Regions from separate parts of the Homo sapiens genome. Here region 1 is linked to region 2. The links come from fine-mapping of genetic effects on gene expression. A gene starts in region 2. The other region holds a variant in brackets. All regions are shown on one strand. Distances are from middle to middle. Region 1 overlaps ZFYVE1 (zinc finger FYVE-type containing 1). Region 2 holds the start of RBM25 (RNA binding motif protein 25).

Region 1 (5,378 bases), 61 kb before region 2:
GTGAGCCGGGATCGCACCACTGCACTCCAGCCTGGGAGACAGAGCGAGACGCTGTCTCAAAAAAAAAAAAAAAAAAAAAAAAAAAGTAAGATACTCTGACTCAATGTACATGAAGTACATAAGCAGGCAGAGCTGATCTATGCTGTGAGAACTCAGGTTACCCTTTCCTGGTAAAGGACATGAGGAGGGCTTCTATGAGGAGGGCTGGTGTCCTATGGTCTAGCATTGAGTACGCAGGGGCATTCAGGCAGTGAAAACTCATCACATGATACCTTGATATGATACGCACTGTTCTGTATGCACATTACACTTCAAGGAGGAGTCTTTTTTCCCAAAAACCCATTCATTGGAAAAATCTAGATATGCCAAAGCATAAAAGGAAAGAAATTATGTCCTCTGCTCTCACCTACTTCCCGAAAGTAACCACAGCTCAATATTGGCCCTTTCAGACATTTTTCCTACAGACTTAGCAACATATATATGCAACTTGCTCTTTTCTCACTTAATAACATACTGTAAGTACCTGTCCTTGTCACAATACACTCAAAAGCAGCAATACAGTCTTCGATCCTGTGGATATACTTAACTAATCACCTTCCTGATGAACTTTTACAATTCTCTGTACTTTGAAAATTCTGGTCTTTTGTGAGGAAGCTCTGGGCAAACTACCAATGTATAAGGGTATTTGCTTGCCCACACTCTCATCATTTGTCCAGAAACTTGGGCAGCCATAGCACAGATGGATTCAATAAATGTATCGGTGATAAAGGTTGAAAGGACTTTTTAATTTCCTTTTTATTTATTTATTTATTTATTTACTTACTTACTTAATTACTTACTTTTTGAGACGAAGTCTCACTCTGTTGCCCAGTCTGGATGGAGTGCAGTGGTGCAATCTCGGCTCACTGCAACCTCCACCTCCAGGGTTCAAGCGATTCTCCTGCCTCAGCCTCCTGAGTAGCTGGGATTACAGGTGCCCACCACCATACACTTGACTAATTGTTGTATTTTTAGTAGAGACAGGGTTTCACCATGTTGGCCAGGCTGGTCTCAAACCCCAAACCTCAAGTGATCCGCCCACCTTGGCCTCCCAAAGAGCTGGGACCACAGGTATGTACCACTGCAACTGGCTAACTTTTTAATGTTTTTGTAGAGTCAGAGTCTTGCTATTTTGCCCAGGCTGGTCTCAAACTCCTGGGCTCTAGTGATCCTCCCGCCTCAATGTCCCAAAGTGCTGGACTATAGGCAGAAGTCATCGTGCTCAGCCTAAAATACAATAACTTTTCAGGGGCTGGTTACTTCAAAATCCTGAACTGGCAATTAAACCTTCCCCTCACTAAAACTGTAAAGATCCAAAGTGGCATAAAAGTATTGATCACAGGAGGCAGCTGAAAGTCAGCATTTGTCACCTCCTCTCCTTATCTTCGAGGCACTTGCTAATTAATCTGCTCCTTCACTGGGGAACATTTACATGTATTATCTTCTATAGGGCATGTGTCATTGGTACCACCAGAATCAACTGGTGCCAGGTCCTTCAGATTCAACCTCCTTTATGGCCTACTCTGTGCACTTCCCTCCTACTGCCACTGCCCTGGCTGAATCCCAACCACTTCTCACTTGAGTGACTTGATATCCTGCTGACTGGTCCCCCTGCCTCAGTCATCCTGCAATAGGCTGCCAGGGAATCTTTTGAAAATATAGATCTGGCCATCTAACTCTCTGCTTAAGATCCTTCATGGACTCCTGCCATACTTGAGAACTGAGTCAAGGCCACCCATGATCTGATCCCTGAGTCTCTCCATCATTCCCTCCCACACAAGCCATGCTTCAAACATGGCAGTCGGGGTGGCAGGGGAGGGGCTGCATTCAGTGGGCAGGGGGAGAATGAAAAGGGGTAACTAAAGGAGGTCAGAGACAAAGGTAGGAGTTAAAGTGATGGCACTACATTTAGGAGTTTGGATTTTGATGTAGTCAAAAGCCACTGACAAGGCTGCAAGCAGAAGTATACATGATCTGAAGTGTAAATTAAGCTTTTGAAAAGATCACATTGGATGCTACATGGAGAATGCATTGAAGGGAGTTAGAATGGAATTTTGGAAGTTATTGCAGAACTACTTCCCTTGTCTCTTTTTTCTTTCCTTCTTTTTTTGAGACAGGGTCTCACTATTGCCCAGGCTGGAGTGCAATAACACGATCACAGCTCACTGCAGCCTCAACCTCTCAGGCTCAAGGGATCCTCCTGCCTTGGCCTCCCAAAGTGCTGAGATTACAGGTGTGAGCCACCACACCCAGCCCTACCTGCAGTTCTCTGAACGCAATTTGTTCCTTGAAGCTACTAGGAGTTTGCTCTTCCTAGAGCATCTTCTTCCCCTCCTCCATCTAGCCAAGTCTCTCAGAGCTCAAATGTCGCCTCTTCTTTCCTAGATTCCATAAGGTGTAGTGTCCTTGCTCTGGACTCCCACAGCACCGTACCTGTAAGTACGGAGGTATGCACAGAACACCGTGC[G/A]GTCGCCCCAACTAGACTGTGAGCTCTTCAAAGACAGGAAGTGTTTTTTCTGCTCTGTGCCTCAGTGCTCAGCACATGACATATGCACTCAATAAACTTTGATGACCGAATGAACAAGTGAAGATTGCAATTGTTTCAGGAGCCAAATTTACTGCTCCCCTCCTATCTAATCTGTTATTGCACCTTTCCCCCATCCTCCTACCACTCAGGTGACAATCTTGCTTCCTATTTCTCTAAGAAAACAAATAAGAACTTACACACACACGTCCCATGTCCACATCCATCTTCTTATCTGCGACCGTGTCCATATTGTCTACTTTCTTTCCCATTGTTATGGATGAACTGTCCGTGGTCCTAAGGCCGACCCTTCCACTCATGCATCACTCCAACTGTTCCTGCTCTCTTACATCTACATTCTTCCCTCTCTAATGAATCATTCTCATCAGTACATAAATATCTGCAATACGTCACATCTTAAATTTTAAAAAAGAAAAATCCCTTGAAATCCCACATCAGCCTCCAGCTACAATCTCATTGTTCTTCTTTGCTTTACAGAACTCTGTCAAAGAATTGAATAAAGTAATTCTTCTCCTAATCTTATTTTTTTTTTAGAGACATAGCCTCACTATGTTGCCCAGGCTGATCTCTAACTCTTGGGCTCAAGGGATTCTCCCACATGAGCCTCCCAGGTAGCTAGAATTACAGGCACTTGCCACTGTACCTGGCTTCCTCCTATTTTCTCTTGATCTCACTCTGATCAAGCTTTTACCCCCCACCATCTCAGGGAACAGGTCTTATCCAGATCACTAAGGACTTATATATTGCCAAAGCCAATTGGCAATTCTCAATCCTTATGCTAGTTGACCTATAAGCAGATTGACATGTTTGATCACTCCATCCTCCTTGAAACACTTTCTATGTCTTCTTTGGACAGAAATCTTTCTGGGCAATCCACTACCAACAAGTTGCTATTGCAGACCAAATAGCTGCCTCCTTGTACCCATAAAGGTTGAGCTGTGACACTGTACCCCATCTCTCACCAGAGCCCAGTAGCTGGGTGTGCACGGTCTCATGGAAGATGATAACTGCAGGGCCCAGTGTGGATAAAGGGACATCCAGGCCACAGCGAGCAGTGGTGGCCTTGAGCTCCTTGGTGAAGTGCTTCAGATAAGCTTCTGAGGCATCCCCAAGGAATTTGAAGAGGTCGTTATGCAGCCGGTCTGCATGAGTTCGATAGATGACGAGGTCTGAGATGGCCAGGACCTTAAGCAGCAGCCGTGTTCTCTGGCTTAGATTCACGGTGGCCCCCAGGAGCCCTTCCGTATCGATCACTGCTACTTTGTGAACTGGGTCATAGGCTGCCCACACTCCCACAGTGCAGGACTCCTGGGTCGGGGAGGTTTTAAAGACTTCACGACCATAAAAGAAAGTGTGGTTGAGAGTATGAGACTTTCCATCACCAGTATTTCCAAAAATGGAAACCACTTTCAGATGCTGATCAGGTTTGCAGTCCAATTTTCTAATAAAGTCTTCTTCATTTGTTACCTGCAAAAAAAAAAAAAAAGACCATGAAATACAGAAACTGTAAAAGCACTAGAAACACCTACAAGAAGAAGTGCTTCCCAAGGACAAGGAACTTGATTGAATTGTCAAAGAAAGGAAGTCACAGGATAATAGCTCCCCACCTCCACCCTTAGCAAACAGCTCAAAGGAACCTCTGAAGCTTTAGTCAGGGAAATAACTTAGTGGCCAAAAGAGCTAAAACTATAAAAAGAAAAAGAAAAGAAAAGAAAAGAAAAAAACAAAAAAAAGGAGCTAAAACCGTAAAACTCTTAGAGGAAAACAAAGTAATTAACCTTTGTGACTTTGGATTAGTCTATAGTTCCTTAGATAGGACAACACAAGCACAAGTAACAAAAGAAAAAACAGATAAGGCCAGGTGTGGTGGTTCACGCATGTAACAGTGGCACTTCAGGAGGCTGAGGAGGGAGGATCCCTTGAGCCCAGAAGTTTGAGGCTGCAGTGAGCTATGACAGTGCTACTGCACTCCAGCATGGGCAACAGAATGAGACCCTGCCTCAAAAAAAAAAAAGAAAGGGGGGTGGGGCCAAGTGAGGTGACTCAGGAGTCCAAGACCAGCCTGGGCAACATGGTGAAATCCTGTCTCTGCTAAAAATTTTAAAAATATTAAAAATTTTAAAATAATAACTAAATAAAAAGAAAAAATAGATAAATTAGACTTGATCTAGCCAGGAGCAGTGGCTATAATCCCAACACCTTGAGAGACCAAGGCAGGAGAACTGCTTGAGCCTAGGAGTTCAAGTGCAGTCTGGCAACGTAACAAGACCCTGTGTCACTACAAAAAATAAAAAATGAGGCCGGGTGCGGTGGCTCACACCTGTAATCCCAACACTTTGTGAGGCCAAGGCAGGCAGATCCCCTGAGGTCAGGAGTTCAAGACCAGCCTGACCAACATGGACAAACCCCATCTCTACAAAAATACAAAATTAGCTGGGCATGGTGGCACATGCCTGTAATCCCAGCTACTCAGGAGGCTATGGCAGGAGAATCACTTGAACCCGGGAAGCAGAGGTTGCAGTGAGCAGCGATCGCACCATTGCACTCCAGCCTGGGCAACAAGAACGAAACTCCATTTCAAATCAATAAATAAATACATAGCTGAGTGCATGCCTGTAGTCCCAGCTACTGCAGAGGCTGAGGTGGGAAGATGGCTCAAGCCCAGGAGTTGGAGGTTACAGTGAACTGTGATCCAGACTGGATGACAAAGTAAGACCTTGACTCAAAAAAAAAAAAGACAATGAAAAGACAACTTACAGAATGGAAGAAAACATTTGTAGATCAAATATCTGAT
Region 2 (5,378 bases):
TCATCCCCATCTATTCTAAGCTTAAATCCTCCTAAGCTTAAATTGAAAAAAAAAAATCAATTTAAATGAAAAATATAGAGACCCCTCCCCTTCTTTTTAGGATTATTCCTGAAAGGATGAAGCAGTATAATGTTCCAGAGCACGAACTCAGGAACCAGACTGGCTCACTTACTATTTTTGTAGCCTTTGATAGGTTAATTTTTGCAAGCCTTGGTTTCTTCATTTGTATCACAATAGTTCTTACTTCAGGGGGTTGTTATGAGGATTAAAGGAGTTGATATTTGCAAAATGCTTTAAACAGTGGCTAGTACCAAAAAAAAAAAAAAAAAAAAAAGGGAGGGGTGACTAAATCATCAGGTTTTGATTAGGTTGTAAGTTTACTCCTGTGTCCTAAGGGGGTCTGGTTAGAGTTGGGACTTCCTATCCAAAGTACATGGATCTGGAGTAGTGGAAGGATGGTTTCTTTTCTTTTTTTTTTTTTTAGACCGAGTTTTGCTCTTGTTGTCCAGGCTGGAGTGCAATGGCGCGATCTCGGCTCACTGCAACCTCTGCCTGCTGGGTTCAAGCGATTTTCCTGCCTCAGCCTCCTGAGCTGCTGGGATTACAGGTGCCTGCCACCACGCCCAGCTAATTTTTGTTATTTTTAGTAGAGACAGGGTTTCGCCATGTTGGCCAGGCTGGTCTCGAACTCCTGACCTCAGGTGATCCACCCGCCTCGGCCTCCTGAAGTGCTGGGATTACAGGTGTGAGCCACTGCACCTGGCTTTTTTTAGACAGAGTCTTGCTCTGTTGCCCAGGCTGGAGTGCAGTGGCGCAATCTCGCCTCACTGCAACCTCTGCCTCCCAGGTTCAAGCGATTCTCCTGCCTTGGCCTCCCAAGTAACTGGGACTACAGGCACACATCACCAAGCCCAGCTAATTTTTGTATTTTTAGTAGAGGCGGGGTTTCACCATGTTGGTCAGGCTGGTCTTGATCTCTTGACCTCGTGATCTGCCTGCCTCGGCCTCCCAAAGTGCTGGGATTACAGGCGTGAGCCACCGCACCCGGCCAAGATGGTTTCTTTTAAAAAATGTGGAGGGTTCATTACTAAAGGCAAGGGGAATGGATGCTGCATGAACATCAGCAACAAATTGTCTAAGGTAGGAAAGTTAGCAAATTGTTGCCTGAGGGCTCCCTTTATTACACAGTAAACACAAATTCATGTACAATGTTTCTAATAATAAAAAGGGACACAGATTAATCTGAGATTTCTGTTTATGCCTTTTGTTGTAAATAGGCACAAACTCTTGGGCGGCCATGGTGGCTCACAGCTTTGATCCCAGCACTTTGGGAGGTCCAGGTGGGCGGATTACCTGAGGTCAGGAGTTGGAGATCAACCTGGCCAACATGGTGAAACCCCATCTCTACTAAAAATACAAAAGTTAGCCAGGTATGGTGACCCACGCCTATAATCCCAGCTACTGGGGAGGCTGAGGCACAAGAATCGCTTGAACTGGGAGGCAGAGATTGCAGTGAGCCAAGATCACGTCACTGCACTCTAGCCTGGGAAACAGAGACACCTCCTCAAAAAACAAAAACAAAACAAAACAAAAAAAGAAACTCATTTTATTTACAAACAATAAATAGCATTATAGAGTAGCACTATAAAAACTATAAATTTGAATAGCACTTTACTGAACAAAGTACAAACATACATAAGTTAATTTCGTCTCCCAAGTAACTGGGACTACAAGCACTCGTCATCACGCACGGCCAAAGGTATTATTAACTTTAGTTAATGGTAAGGAAACCTAGCAAGCAGAAGTATAGAAGGATGTAAATTTTGCAGATGGTAGTAATTAGTGCTACTTTCTCATTTGTGCTCCCACTAAATTTTGTGTTCTATTGGTACTCATCATATGTTAATCATTTCTTTTCTTTTCTTTTCTTTTTTTTTGAGACAATGTCTCACTTTGTTGCCCAGGCTGGAGTGCAGTGGTGCCATCTCGGCTCACTGCAACCTCCGCCTCCAGGGTTCAAGCGATTCTCCTGCCTCAGCCTCCCGAGTAGCTGGGATTACAGGCGCCTGCCACCACGCCTAGTTTATTTTTGTATTTTCAGTAGAGACGGGGTTTTGCCATGTTGGCCAGGGTGGCCTCGAACTCCTAACCTCAGGTGATCCACCCGCCTCGGCCTCCCAAAGTGCTGGGGTTACAGGCGTGAGCCACCGCGCCCGGCCGGTAATCATTTCTGTCACTCAACAAATATTTATTGAGCGCTTGCTATGTACCAGGACCTGTTCTTGCACAAAACAGGCAATCCATGCATTGCTTACATTCACATTCTAGTGGGGGTAGTGACGGACCATAAAATCAGCAAGAAAAATGTATGTTATGATAGATGGTTATGAGTGCTTTAGAGTAAAATTAAGTAGGGGAGGCAGGCAGGAAGTGTGTAGTATGTTTCAATTTTATATTAGGCTGGTCATGGTTTGTCATCTATTTCACCTGGCTCACAGTTCTTGCAGGACAGGAACAAATCTCACTTCCATTTGCCTTCATACTTCCAGCACTTAACACAGCACCAGGAACTCAGGGAGGCAATAACTTTATACTGAATCCGTTTTATGCCTTCCTAGAGGCAAGCAGTTGAGAAAGGCGTGTAACTAGATATTGCCTATAAGGTCCACAATTGGAATAACGTAATCATTTATGATTAATTTTATTCATTTCCATTAACTTAAGCTAAGTTCTTTTAGCACGTTTAGATTACAGAACGAAAGCTGTGTTAACTAGTATTACAGGACTTTTCACGTTTTTCCAAACATCTTCTAGCCACCTCTTTGGCCCTACAACTACGCATAAGCTTTTGCTTTTCAAAAAACCTCCACAGCCTTTGCCAATTATTTGTTGATCTCGAGTAGTTGTTATAACAGCACTTGGGGTTTAACACTAAGGTTGCAGATCGCGCCCAGTTATCAGTTCCTCGAACCTCAAGGAATCACAAAGCAAGGTTCCACCCCCCGAAAAACTACGAAAAGTGAGAAAGCCTCTAACACTCCTCGCGCCGTGCCCAGCCGGAACCTTGACCTCAAGATGGCGTCCCGTAGTCGTAAGATTCAGTCGGCTCCAATCAAACATGGTGGGTCATAATTTACAGTTCGGGCCTTTCTAGTAACCGCTAGACGCTGCTTCTCTATGGTTATTCGTCTCGGCTTGGTGAGTCAGAGCCAACAGCGGAGACGATCTATATACGTTCTTCTCTATGGTTCCGCGCTCCCCGCCCCCGGCCGCAGTGCACGCCGGGCAAGAGGAAGACCTCCATCAGCTCGCCGCGCAGCGCGGCTGTATTTGCGGCCTGTGCGAGTAGGCGCTTGGGCACTCAGTCTCCCTGGCGAGCGACGGGCAGAAATCTCGAACCAGTGGAGCGCACTCGTAACCTGGATCCCAGAAGGTCGCGAAGGCAGTACCGTTTCCTCAGCGGCGGGTGAGTTTGTGTCTCTGAACGCGTGTGGAAACCGGGAGACCGGGTGCCTCAGCTGGTGGAGGAGGAAAAGCCGGGGTGGCTGCGAAAGCGCCAGGGTGGGGTAGAGGTAAGGGGGAGCGCGGAGGCGGGGGTGGGGGAGGGGTCGGCACGAGGCTTGGTTTCTTCTCTTCTCTAAGGCCTGGAAAAGCTGTGGGCCCAGCCGTAGCTGGTGGAGGCCAGACCTACGGCTTGAGCTTTCCGTCTTGCATTGTCGCCCACTTTCCCTTTCCCTTCCACGTTCCGCCGCGGAGTGAATCGTCTCTGCCCCCCCTGGGCTCCACGTTAGATACAAAACGATCGATCTGCCCCAGGGGAGCCCTTCCCTGAGCCCCCTTACTTACCGGAGCCCCACAGTAGGTTTTCGGGCCTGGGACACTCTCGCCCCAGCCGTTGCCTTGAAGTTAGCCTCTACCCACCCTTTTTAGCGAGGTGCTGGCCACCAACGGATATCTTTCCCTTCCTCTTTGGCCATCTAGAGCCCGCCACCAAGTGAACTGGGCCCCACCCCCTTGGAATTGAGCTAATACCTACCTTTTTAGCAGTCTCCTGGCTTGCTTAAGATAGTCATGAATTTTGCCATCCTGCCTCTTTTGCGCATTGGAGGGTGCAGTAAACTGTATATCGCCATTCATTCTAGGCGATTACTAAGCTCCACATTAAAATGTTACTTTCTCATTTTTCTTTGGTCGTCAATCCTGCTTTTAAATACGGTTTTCCGGAATAGACGTAGGACTATGAAGATTTTTCGGAGGTTATGTAATATGGATTTGTATTGCCATGGAAATGCCATTTTGATACTGGGCAGAGTGGAGCCAAGAGAAGGGAAGAGATTGGACCTCTGTTGCACCCTACTGCTGTATTAGTGTGAAGTACTCTGTGTATTAGGCCGTGGGCAGTAATGTATAAATAATTTTTGTATAGTCTTTGGAGCTTTTAATTTTTTTAAAGGCTATTTCCAAAAACATTCAGAGGACTTGAAAGGGATTAAGTTGGTCATAAGTTACTCATGATTCAAGTGAATCTTATAGTATTCTAATTCATTTAACTTAAAGCCTTGGTTTTTCTTTTTCTTTTTTCTTTTAAGCTTTGGTTTTTGTTCCTCTGTAAAATGAATTTATAGTAGTATCTATACGTTATTGGGGTTGGGGATTGAGAAAAACGTATGTAAAATCCTTCGTGCAGTATCCAGGTAACACACATAAGCATTTAAATCTATATTGACATAATTTGTTATTTAAGGATTTTCAATGAAATGTAAGAGTCCAACCCTGACTCTGTAATTTTTTTTTTTGTTTTGTGTTGTTGTTTTTTTTAAGACGGAGTCTTGCTGTGTTGCCCAGGCTGGAGTGCGGTGGCGCGATCTTGGCCACTGCAACCTCCGCCTCCCAGGTTCAAGCGATTCGCCTGCCTCAGCCTCCTGAGTAGCTGGGACTACAGGCGCGCGCCACCACGCCCGGCTAATTTTTGTAGTTTTAATAGAGGCGAGGTTTCACTATGTTGGCCAGAATGGTCTCGATTTCCTGACCTCGTGATCCGCCCGCCTAGGCCCCAAAGCGCTGGGATTACAGGCGTGAGCCACCGTGCCCGGCCTTCTGAATGTATTTTTAAAGTAAAACTAGTCCATGTTAACATTGGGTAACTACTTCAGACCTAACAGGAATTTGGAATTTTCAAGTTATGTTTTTGTCCACAGACAAATTAGCAGTTTACTTTTCTTATTTACACATGATTTAGTGAAAATTTACATTATTTTATAGCTTTGGAAGCAAAGGAATCATTTATCAATCTTAACATCTTGCTAAAACAGTCTGTATTTTAGAGATCTCTTGATTGACTTTTCAAACACTATCACTGCCATTCACAAAAGGGGATT

Evidence for each region. PIP is the estimated chance that this variant, and not a neighbour inherited with it, causes the effect.
Region 1: its variant is fine-mapped to the expression of RBM25 in whole blood (TOPMed, PIP above 0.99).

Annotation. Positions count from the first base shown.
Region 1 is chr14:72,994,265-72,999,642 of GRCh38, forward strand. ZFYVE1 (zinc finger FYVE-type containing 1) reads right to left here. Exons shown (of 12, transcript NM_021260.4): 3 at 3,547-4,051. Among named protein-coding and RNA genes, the nearest start is that of ZFYVE1, 30 kb to the right of the region's middle. RefSeq lists a silencer at 3,604-3,804. The variant G/A (reference allele first, on the strand shown) is at 2,507.
Region 2 is chr14:73,055,240-73,060,617 of GRCh38, forward strand. RBM25 (RNA binding motif protein 25) reads left to right here and starts at 3,295. Exons shown (of 19, transcript NM_021239.3): 1 at 3,295-3,466. It overlaps RBM25-AS1 (RBM25 antisense RNA 1), which reads right to left and starts at 4,214. Exons shown (of 2, transcript NR_184256.1): 1 at 4,037-4,214; 2 at 1,591-3,518. RefSeq lists enhancers at 2,572-3,536, 2,608-3,807, 2,860-3,399.